3 separate regions of the Homo sapiens genome follow, and all the other regions are reported to be linked to region 3. Evidence: microRNA targets listed by miRTarBase, many of them from high-throughput screens and not tested one by one. Region 3 holds a microRNA gene; each other region holds the end of a gene's coding sequence.
The links. Region 3 holds the annotated microRNA hsa-miR-1301-3p (UUGCAGCUGCCUGGGAGUGACUUC, at 1,764-1,787, opposite strand). A microRNA usually pairs through its seed, bases 2 to 8, with sites in the 3' UTR of a target mRNA and lowers its output. Matches are read on the target gene's strand: a 7mer-m8 pairs with bases 2 to 8, a 7mer-A1 pairs with bases 2 to 7 and ends in A, and an 8mer does both.

Region 1 (3,136 bases), not on the chromosome of region 3:
CCAGTACTTGCTTGTTTCCAATGGCCACCTCCCCAAAGCATGTGACGCCAGTCCCGAGTCCACGCCACTGACAGGACAGCTCCCCGGGAAACAGAGGGTGCCACTGCTGTTGGCACCAAAAAGCTAGGTTTTGTCTACCTCAGTTCTTGTCATACCAATCTCTACGGGAAAGAGAGGTAGGAGAGGCTGCGAGGAAGCTTGGGTTCAAGCGTCACTCATCTGTACATAGTTGTAACTCCCATGTGGAGTATCAGTCGCTCACAGGACTTGGATCTGAAGCACAGTAAACGCAAGAGGGGATTTGTGTACAAAAGGCAAAAAAAGTATTTGATATCATTGTACATAAGAGTTTTCAGAGATTTCATATATATCTTTTACAGAGGCTATTTTAATCTTTAGTGCATGGTTAACAGAAAAAAATTATACAATTTTGACAATATTATTTTTCGTATCAGGTTGCTGTTTAATTTTGGAGGGGGTGGGGAAATAGTTCTGGTGCCTTAACGCATGGCTGGAATTTATAGAGGCTACAACCACATTTGTTCACAGGAGTTTTTGGTGCGGGGTGGGAAGGATGGAAGGCCTTGGATTTATATTGCACTTCATAGACCCCTAGGCTGCTGTGCGGTGGGACTCCACATGCGCCGGAAGGAGCTTCAGGTGAGCACTGCTCATGTGTGGATGCCCCTGCAACAGGCTTCCCTGTCTGTAGAGCCAGGGGTGCAAGTGCCATCCACACTTGCAGTGAATGGCTTTTCCTTTTAGGTTTAAGTCCTGTCTGTCTGTAAGGCGTAGAATCTGTCCGTCTGTAAGGCGTAGAATGAGGGTTGTTAATCCATCACAAGCAAAAGGTCAGAACAGTTAAACACTGCCTTTCCTCCTCCTCTTATTTTATGATAAAAGCAAATGTGGCCTTCTCAGTATCATTCGATTGCTATTTGAGACTTTTAAATTAAGGTAAAGGCTGCTGGTGTTGGTACCTGTGGATTTTTCTATACTGATGTTTTCGTTTTGCCAATATAATGAGTATTACATTGGCCTTGGGGGACAGAAAGGAGGAAGTTCTGACTTTTCAGGGCTACCTTATTTCTACTAAGGACCCAGAGCAGGCCTGTCCATGCCATTCCTTCGCACAGATGAAACTGAGCTGGGACTGGAAAGGACAGCCCTTGACCTGGGTTCTGGGTATAATTTGCACTTTTGAGACTGGTAGCTAACCATCTTATGAGTGCCAATGTGTCATTTAGTAAAACTTAAATAGAAACAAGGTCCTTCAAATGTTCCTTTGGCCAAAAGCTGAAGGGAGTTACTGAGAAAATAGTTAACAATTACTGTCAGGTGTCATCACTGTTCAAAAGGTAAGCACATTTAGAATTTTGTTCTTGACAGTTAACTGACTAATCTTACTTCCACAAAATATGTGAATTTGCTGCTTCTGAGAGGCAATGTGAAAGAGGGAGTATTACTTTTATGTACAAAGTTATTTATTTATAGAAATTTTGGTACAGTGTACATTGAAAACCATGTAAAATATTGAAGTGTCTAACAAATGGCATTGAAGTGTCTTTAATAAAGGTTCATTTATAAATGTCAGTATAGTTGGTGGTCCTTCTTTTACAAACGCAGTCATTCTGCCTTTAATTATCTTCCCCCAAAAAAGAAAAAAAAAATAGGCGAAGCAAAATCACATACTGTTTGTTTGCTCCAGGGCAGACAACACTGCTAGATTCCTGACATTTTGTTTTGAATTTTTCTACACCTGGAGCTTGTTAGTCAAGGTCTAAAATCCCTAAGTGTGGTGACCTTTCCATTTCATCCTGCCTTTTCAAAGCTGGCCCAGGCCCTCCTTTCAGTCTGACATGAGAATGGCGAGAATGGCTCACCCACCGTGCCCTCCTGCACGAAGCCAGCTGGGCCCACCTAGTCACTTGAGTTGCAGCTGCTTTCTCTCACACACCACAGGGGGCGCTGGACACATCTCTGTAAAATAATACAATTGTGCGTTTTTATGGGTGAAATCTGAGGGTAATTAAAACCAGCAGCCTAGTTACCCAGAAAGAGTGCTTGCTATGCACCTGTAGTTCAATCTTTCTTTCTTTTTCAACAAAGCCTACCCTTACACAACAGGAATTAACTAGGGGGAGAAACACCCACATACACAACTCTTCCCCAAGTCTCCTTTTCCCAAACAAACAAACAAGCTATTCTTTTAGAATTATAACCATCTTGCCTTCTGCTGAATCCACCATCAGGTGGCAGGAAATGAAAGATCAGATACAGATCAAATGAAAGCTCTAAAAGGCCTGGCCTCAGCATTACCAAACTTATTTATTAAGAGGTTCTGAGGAAATTGTTCAGAGTACCGCCACAGACCCCGTTTTCTTCTCTTAGCTCTCTGGCATACAGGCCAATGACTTCATACCAGCCAGCCTATACCACGGATGGCACAATCTCCATGCCGGTATCTTAGCACAACTGGTCTTCAGCACTGGGGCCTATAGTTCAGACAGCTGCTCAGCGGAAGAGGGTTTGCACTGCAGGCCCCTCTCTTGACAGAAGTGGAGGTGAGGCTTGTCTCTGCTTCAAGGACTCTTTCTGCCAACTTCCAACAGCAAGCTGTGCGTTCGGTCATAAGCCCCCAGAAAGATGAAACCTCCCAGACTGATGGCTGCCATTCGAGGGAAGACACCTGCAAATAATCTAGGGGAAAAAACAGGATTTTTAATGTTGTGCGTATTTTAAAAAAAGGTTAAATTCCAATACCCACAGCTTGCTCAGCTCAATACACCATGCTCATTAGTGGCTAACTACCAAACAGCTTGTGAACGCTCCCAAATAAGGCAAGTAATAGCTGTGTCCCAACAGTAGTTCTAAAACTTTCATGCCATTTTTCCCTTTGAAACATGAAATTGATTTTTTTTAAAAAGGTGTTAAAGAGCTGAATCCTAGGTAAGGCTGGAAGGCACTTCCAGCCCACACCTCTAAAGTGATCTCCAGGGGTTGCTCAGTGAAGAGATTTTTGGGCAATGCTGCCGCTCCACCCACTGACTCAGTTGCATTTTGTCCTTCGAGACCCCAAAACATGACGTCACGACAACGAGTTGAACCTCCATGGATTCCCTGTGTTCCTTTTCTG
Region 2 (3,136 bases), not on the chromosome of region 3:
GCTATGACAGAGGGGTAAGTGCCTACTGTCCTCTTGGATTCTATATTGCAGGTAGAGGACTGGCATGGTAATAGGTGACAGCGTTGTTGGCTTGTGCACTGGTAGCTGCTGCTAAGAATGGGAAGGGCAGTGTTTTTGACTCCTTGGAGGTCCTGGAGGGTGTTTGTGGCTTTGGCTACTCCTTGCTCCCAGGCCTGGGCCATGCAAGCACACACCTTGTTTCTCTGATGCAGGACTTGGAGAACCAGATGCATATAGCGGAGCAGCGGAGGAGAACCCTGCTGAAAGATTTCCATGACACCTAAGTTGGGATGTGGATGTGCCGGGGTGAGGAAGATGTGGCTGCAAGGTCTCCCGGCTGCCATACTGCATGCTGCAGGCTCTGCCTTTCATGACCCCAGGCAACAGCCAGGGCCCCACTCCTGAGAGACACTGGCAACACCTCTTAGTTGATTTCTGTTTTCTTCTCTTTTCACTTTTTGTTTCTACCAGGGTAGAGGCCATGTTGAACTGGCCTCTTTTCAGGACTTTTATTTCCCCCTGGATGGTTGTTGGGAGGGAGGGAAAGTGTTTTCTGAATGGCTATTAATAGTATTAGATCATTACAACTTATGTAACTTTCAAAGGTTGTACAATTATACAAAAAAAAAAAAAAGGCAAACTATAGGATAACACAGAGCCCTTTTTGAAAATAAATTGGCATTGGAGTGTTTTACCCTCTAGCTGTTTTACTTAGAATGTAACATATGCTGCCTACCCACCTCAAAATGTCTGTACTGCAAGAGGGCCCTGGGCCTCTGCTTTCCATATTCACGTTTGGCCAGAGTTGTAGTCCCAAAGAAGAGCATGGGTGGCAGATGGTAGGGAATTGAACTGGCCTGTGCAATGGGCATGGAGCACAAGGGGTCACAGCATGCCTCCTGCCTTACCGTGGCAGTACGGAGACAGTCCAGAACATGGTCTTCTTGCCACGGGGTGTTGTTGTCTCTGGTGGTGCTGCATGTCTGTGGCTCACCTTTATTCTTGAAACTGAGGTTTACCTGGATCTGGCTACTGAGGCTAGAGCCCACAGCAGAATGGGGTTGGGCCTGTGGCCCCCCAAACTAGGGGGTGTGGGTTCATCACAGTGTTGCCTTTTGTCTCCTAAAGATAGGGATCTACTTTTGAAGGGAATTGTTCCTCCCAAATAAATTTGCTTTACCTTGGTCCTTTCTTTTGTGCCAGTATTCAAGTGGTATAGCTCTGAGCAGGGTCACATTTGGCCAAACCTGACACTGTCTTGCTGCATTCTCCTTTGGCAAACATCAGGGTCAGAATTCAGGATAGCCCTTCCTAGGGCACTGGACTTTCTGGCATGGGGGCTGTGTTTGCACAAGTTATTTTCATGTTACCTGGAGAGTGTCCAGAGGCTGCTCTGAGGCTGAGGTGTGTTCCCCCTTGCCTGGTTCCAGCTGTCAGAGGGATACCATCCTAGGGTCTGGGAATCCAAGGCCACGAGACTCCTTGGTTTGTGGTCCGAGATCCTGTACTAAGGAGGGTCTGGCCAGAGGAACAGACCAGCTTTTGCACAATGAAGCGCAAGGGAACAAGTGGTTTGCCTGGTGTCCTACCTGTCCTGAACCTGGTCCTGTGGGCCATTGAAAAGTTAGATCTGTGATCTCTGGGGTTTTTGTGGCTTTGTTCAATGCTTCCACTCTAGGGCAGGCAGAGCAGTCTATACTCTCCCAAGCCTGCTTGACCTCCAAGTAGAGCTGATACAGAGATCTGTGAATATTGTGATAGAAATTCTTTGGTATTCATACATTTCAGCTGCAAGTCAGCAATTTCCCAGGTACCATGTAAGCTATAAAACAGTCATTCTTAAAGACAGAGGATAGCTGTGACTCATGGGATCATGAGGTCCATGGCTGGTTGCAGGTTCCCTTTTTCCTTCCTCAGGTTTTGTCTCTTCCTGTGTTGTCCCCAGCAAGGGAGAGACTGTGGGGTGGATTGGGAGAACAGATTAGGAGTATAGCAAATGAACCCAGAATGGAACAGTGGGGAGCTAACTGTGAATGAGGAGAGTACCTGCTGCAGGACCTGGAGGTCAGGTGTGAATGCTGTATTGGCACAGGGAATAAATATCCTGGCGTCTGGAGCCTTCACCTCTCCGTCAAGTCCTTCCTGTGATACTGCCATGGCACAGGATCTGAGTTGCAGCTCTGCACCCTAAATCACACCCTGGGCATTGTCTGGGCTGCAGGGCTGCCAGGTTCTGTACTTGTGTCCAGCTGTGGCCCTGGATGCTGGAGCTGGAGGGTTTTCTGTGCTCAGACTGTAGCCTGTAGCTCTTGGCCTGTGTAGAGCCCCCTCCTGTGCCCTCAGTGGCTGTCGTTTGTTAACATCATCAGGAAGATGGGAAAGGTCAGGCAGAATTTTTCTGCCCTACAAAGGGTGGAAGAGAAAGGACACAGTATTTTCATGAATTTACCATATATCTTTGTTTTTCTTCAACGAAAAAGTTAATTGAGGCAATGTCATCTGCTCAAAGTTGAGTGGTTTATTCACAATAAACTGTAAGTTTCTGATTATAAAAATGTGTCTAGAGTCTTTCTTCATGGGGTCTAGGTAGTCTTCTGAGCCCACAGGGGTCTGGCCAGTGAACACCAGAGGAGTGCCTTCCTATCAGTCAGCCCCTTCTTCCAGAGGGCTGTGGAGGCCCCAGTGGCCAAACTCGGCTCTGTTTTCCCTTTCTGGCTGTTGGGGGAGAGGGCACCTGTAAGTGATCCCTGTGGAATGAAGTAGAAAATCCTGCCAGTTTTCCGCTCTCCTCTCCCTCAGTACAGGCTGAATCATTCCCCACCACAGATAGATCCCAGGGTTGTGGTAGAGTACTGATATAAATGTCCCAACCCCCCCATTCTGAGACCTCCGGACCCCTCCAAAGCAGACATGGGAATGTAGGGCTGTGGAATATGGCAGGGTGAACTCCAGCTTCACGGGAGCCCTAAGGGTTATGAAGAGACAACTTGGGGCAGAAACAAGTGTGGAGTCTAATCTCAAGGGTGAAGGACAGGAAATGAGGTTTGGATTGATTAAGGGGGTCCACATTTGTGGTGTCAGAAGTGGCAGTAGTGTCAGTGATAAGTAGCTCAGG
Region 3 (3,136 bases):
CCCCTGGGAAAACGTAGCAGCGGTGTGCTTCCAGCAAGATACCTCCCACAAACAACTTTCCTTGGGACCCAAAAAGATGGATTTCCAGTAAATTCCAGAGGGTGGATTTCCAGCAAGTTCTGCCAACATGGCATTACAGAGACGTTGCCATCCAGGGAGCCATCGCCACACCCTCTCCATCAAGGTGTGGATCTCAACCCTGCGGGGCCTCTTCCTTGGGCACTCTGTGGCAACCCTAGAGGTAGGGGCTGTTCTCATATCTATTATTTTTGTATTCTTTGGAGTTATTTTTACTTCTTACTAGCCAATTCCTCATTATTCCAATCCAATTAGAGTTAATAATTCGTTATGTGAAACTTTCCTTGTTCCAATCACCATGTGGTTTCTGTCTTCTGAATGGACCCTGACTGATACAGTCACCCGCGGCCCCAAAGGGCTTTTTTCCATCCTCATGGCCCTTGAGCTCAATTCAACATCCTGGCCAGCTAATCACTCCCTGCTTCAAGCACTCACTCAACAGCCATTTCTTGAGTGCCATTGTGGAGCCGGGCCCTGGAGTGAAAGGAGACCCCTGCTTCTGGAGCTCACCAGCAACTGCCTTCTGTGTGTTCTCTCCCAGCCATGACTCCATCTGGCTCCTTGCTTCTGGGTCTCCAGCCTCAGATTCTGCAGCTTTGTCTCTGGGGCTGTCCGGGAGTCTTGATCCCACTTCTGCACGGTGGGTGCTCCTCAAAGGTCATGTTCTACCTTCAGCTTCTCTCTAAATGCTCTTCCTCTAAGACACCTGGGCATAAGTTAACATACGCCTCCTACTGCCAGGGGCTCCAGCTCTATTTATTTTCATCCCAACTGGATGACTTGCAGTCCCTAAAATCCTACTCTTCCAGAACATGCTTCTTTCAGAGCCGGCTCTATTTTCTGGTTTTTCCCTCTATGTGGAAGTAACATTCCCCTCCCTTCAGCTGCCTAAGTCCCAAACCCTGGAGAAAACTCAGGTCCCACCTTTCCCCTGGGTCCTCACATCCAGCAGGTACCTGGTCCTTGGGCTTCTCTCGTCCCCCTATTCCCTCCAGGCCCTTTGTACCTCTTGTGTCTGTGGCACAATAACCTGGTAGATGCCCTGGAGCGGGTCCACCTGCCTCTGGCATCTCTACCTCCCACCCCACCCTATCAGCAAGGATTGCCCACACATGGCTCCCTCTATGAAAACCTATGACACCTCATGACAATTTTAAAAAGTTGATTGTGAATGTACTAAAACCATCGAACTGTACACTTATATGGGTGAACTGTATGGAATGTGAATTATATCTTAAAGCTATTATTTTTAAAAATCCGGTGATGCCAAAGATTTGCACACGTGGTAAAATATACGCTCTGGCCTGGTCTCACCAGGGCTGGCTACAACGCAGCCTCCGCCCACTGCTCTGGCCGTGCCCCCACCTCTCCCAGCTGCATCATTCCAGGCCCGGCTGCTGTCCCGGAATGACACCCCTGGCTCCCACCCTCTCCCACAGGGCCCACTCAGCTCCTCTCTCCCAGTCCTTCAACCCAACATCTCTCCTCCCCCAAAACACCGTCCCCTTCTCCTCGACCACCCACCCAGGGGTCATTGAGTGTTCCATGCGTATATAGATGTGTCTGATTTCTCAAAGAGACGAGGTCAGAGTTCATGCGTTGTATCTTGCTGCCCGTCCCCCCCGCCCACAGCTTGTCCCCCGCAACCCCGTTCCGGGTGACCCTGGAGGCAGAGAGGACTGTGTGAAGTCACTCCCAGGCAGCTGCAACATCCCCAGCACAGTGCTGCGGTGCCTAGAGCGACCCCCCACAATCCCCATTCTAGGGGTCGCTTGGCAGAGCCCCCAAGGCACTGCGTCAGTGGAAAGGCTGTTTGCAGGAGCTCCGAGGGCAGAACATACACCTGCTGTGGGTCTGCAGGCTCACCTGCCCCAGATCCCCAAGGTGAAGGGGTTGGTGAGGGCCTAGGCTATCAGTGAACCACAGGAATCAGGGGGGCTGAGTCCTTGTCTGGCCTGTGACCACCCTCTCCCCACACCGTCCATGGCCACAGTCCCCCAACCCCACTTCCTAAACCAGCTCCCTCTTGGGTCAAAACCAGGAGGTCCCCCAAAGGGTCTTCAGGGCTTGGGAGCGGCTGTTGGAGCTCGTCCCCCACCACCCCAACCAATTCAGCAGGAAGGGAGCTCGCTGCTCTCAGATTTCCCACAGGGCCGCCTTTCTCCTCATCGTCTGTCCCAACAAAAACAAACCATTTGTGGAGGGGGCCGAGGGAGGGAGAAGAGCCCAGGGTTCTGAGCAGCACATCTCAGAACCATGGGCCCTGCCTCCAGCAGTCCCTGCCTCAAACCCTGGCTCTGTCACTGAGAGATTCGGGCCTCAGTTTCCCAAGTTGTAAAGCGGGGTGAGAAAGAGTCCCTATTTCATAAGTCTATTTTAAGATAGGAGGGAATCTGAGTCAAGTGTTTAACATAGGGCCTGGCACGTGGCAGGTACTCAATAAATGATCATTTAAAAATTATTATGTGCTTGATCAGAAAGAAAGGCAAGCCATATGTTCTTAGGAAACCTAGACTCTGGCTTCAGACCACACTTCAGAGTGGCTTGTGCTCACTCCTAGGAACGGCTGCTGTGCCAGGCTCCCCCTCCCAGCTGATGCCCCTAAGTCTCCAGCCCAGGCCCCGTGCCACTAGAATGGGGAATGTATTTACCAGAGAATGTCTACCTGCCACTGTGGCCTCAGGAGTCTCTCACAGTCATGCAGACCCCACACACACACACACACACACACACACACACACACACACAGACACACAGATACAAACACACATAGATGCACACACAGAGATATACCTAGACAAATGCAGAGATGACCCAGGCGCACAGGTTCACACACGCACACAGCCCCCCTCATGCTGCACACGCTGGGGCACCTGGAGCCAGAGGATGCTGGGCGGGCCTTCCGACACAGGCACACGCGTTGCACATTTCACCTACTGTATGGGCCAAAGAGGCATTTGGAAACCAGCTTGGGAACCTCATAACCATTCATAACATTGTTCTGAGAGAAAACACAAAACATTGCCCTATAAACAAACATTTGCAATAGAATTCCTCC

Region 1: the mRNA of SLC25A26 is a reported target of hsa-miR-1301-3p. Seed matches in the 3' UTR shown: 8mer at 1,934-1,941.
Region 2: miRTarBase lists ARIH2 as a target of hsa-miR-1301-3p. Seed matches in the 3' UTR shown: 7mer-A1 at 342-348 and 8mer at 1,808-1,815.

What each region holds. Positions count from the first base shown.
Region 1 is chr3:66,377,254-66,380,389 of GRCh38, reverse strand. It overlaps SLC25A26 (solute carrier family 25 member 26), which reads right to left. Exons shown (of 10, transcript NM_001379210.1): 10 at 1,467-2,700. The coding sequence ends at 2,583. It overlaps LRIG1 (leucine rich repeats and immunoglobulin like domains 1), which reads left to right. Exons shown (of 19, transcript NM_015541.3): 19 at 1-1,593. The coding sequence ends at 127. Among named protein-coding and RNA genes, the nearest start is that of LRIG1, 120 kb to the left of the region's middle.
Region 2 is chr3:48,982,966-48,986,101 of GRCh38, forward strand. ARIH2 (ariadne RBR E3 ubiquitin protein ligase 2) reads left to right here. Exons shown (of 16, transcript NM_006321.4): 15 at 1-14; 16 at 234-3,136. The coding sequence ends at 305. LOC124909376 (a long non-coding RNA gene) reads right to left here. Exons shown (of 2, transcript XR_007095903.1): 2 at 2,520-2,768. Among named protein-coding and RNA genes, the nearest start is that of P4HTM, 5.7 kb to the right of the region's middle.
Region 3 is chr2:25,326,888-25,330,023 of GRCh38, forward strand. It overlaps MIR1301 (microRNA 1301), which reads right to left and starts at 1,834; the gene lies at 1,753-1,834. All of the region lies in intron 1 of DNMT3A (DNA methyltransferase 3 alpha), which reads right to left.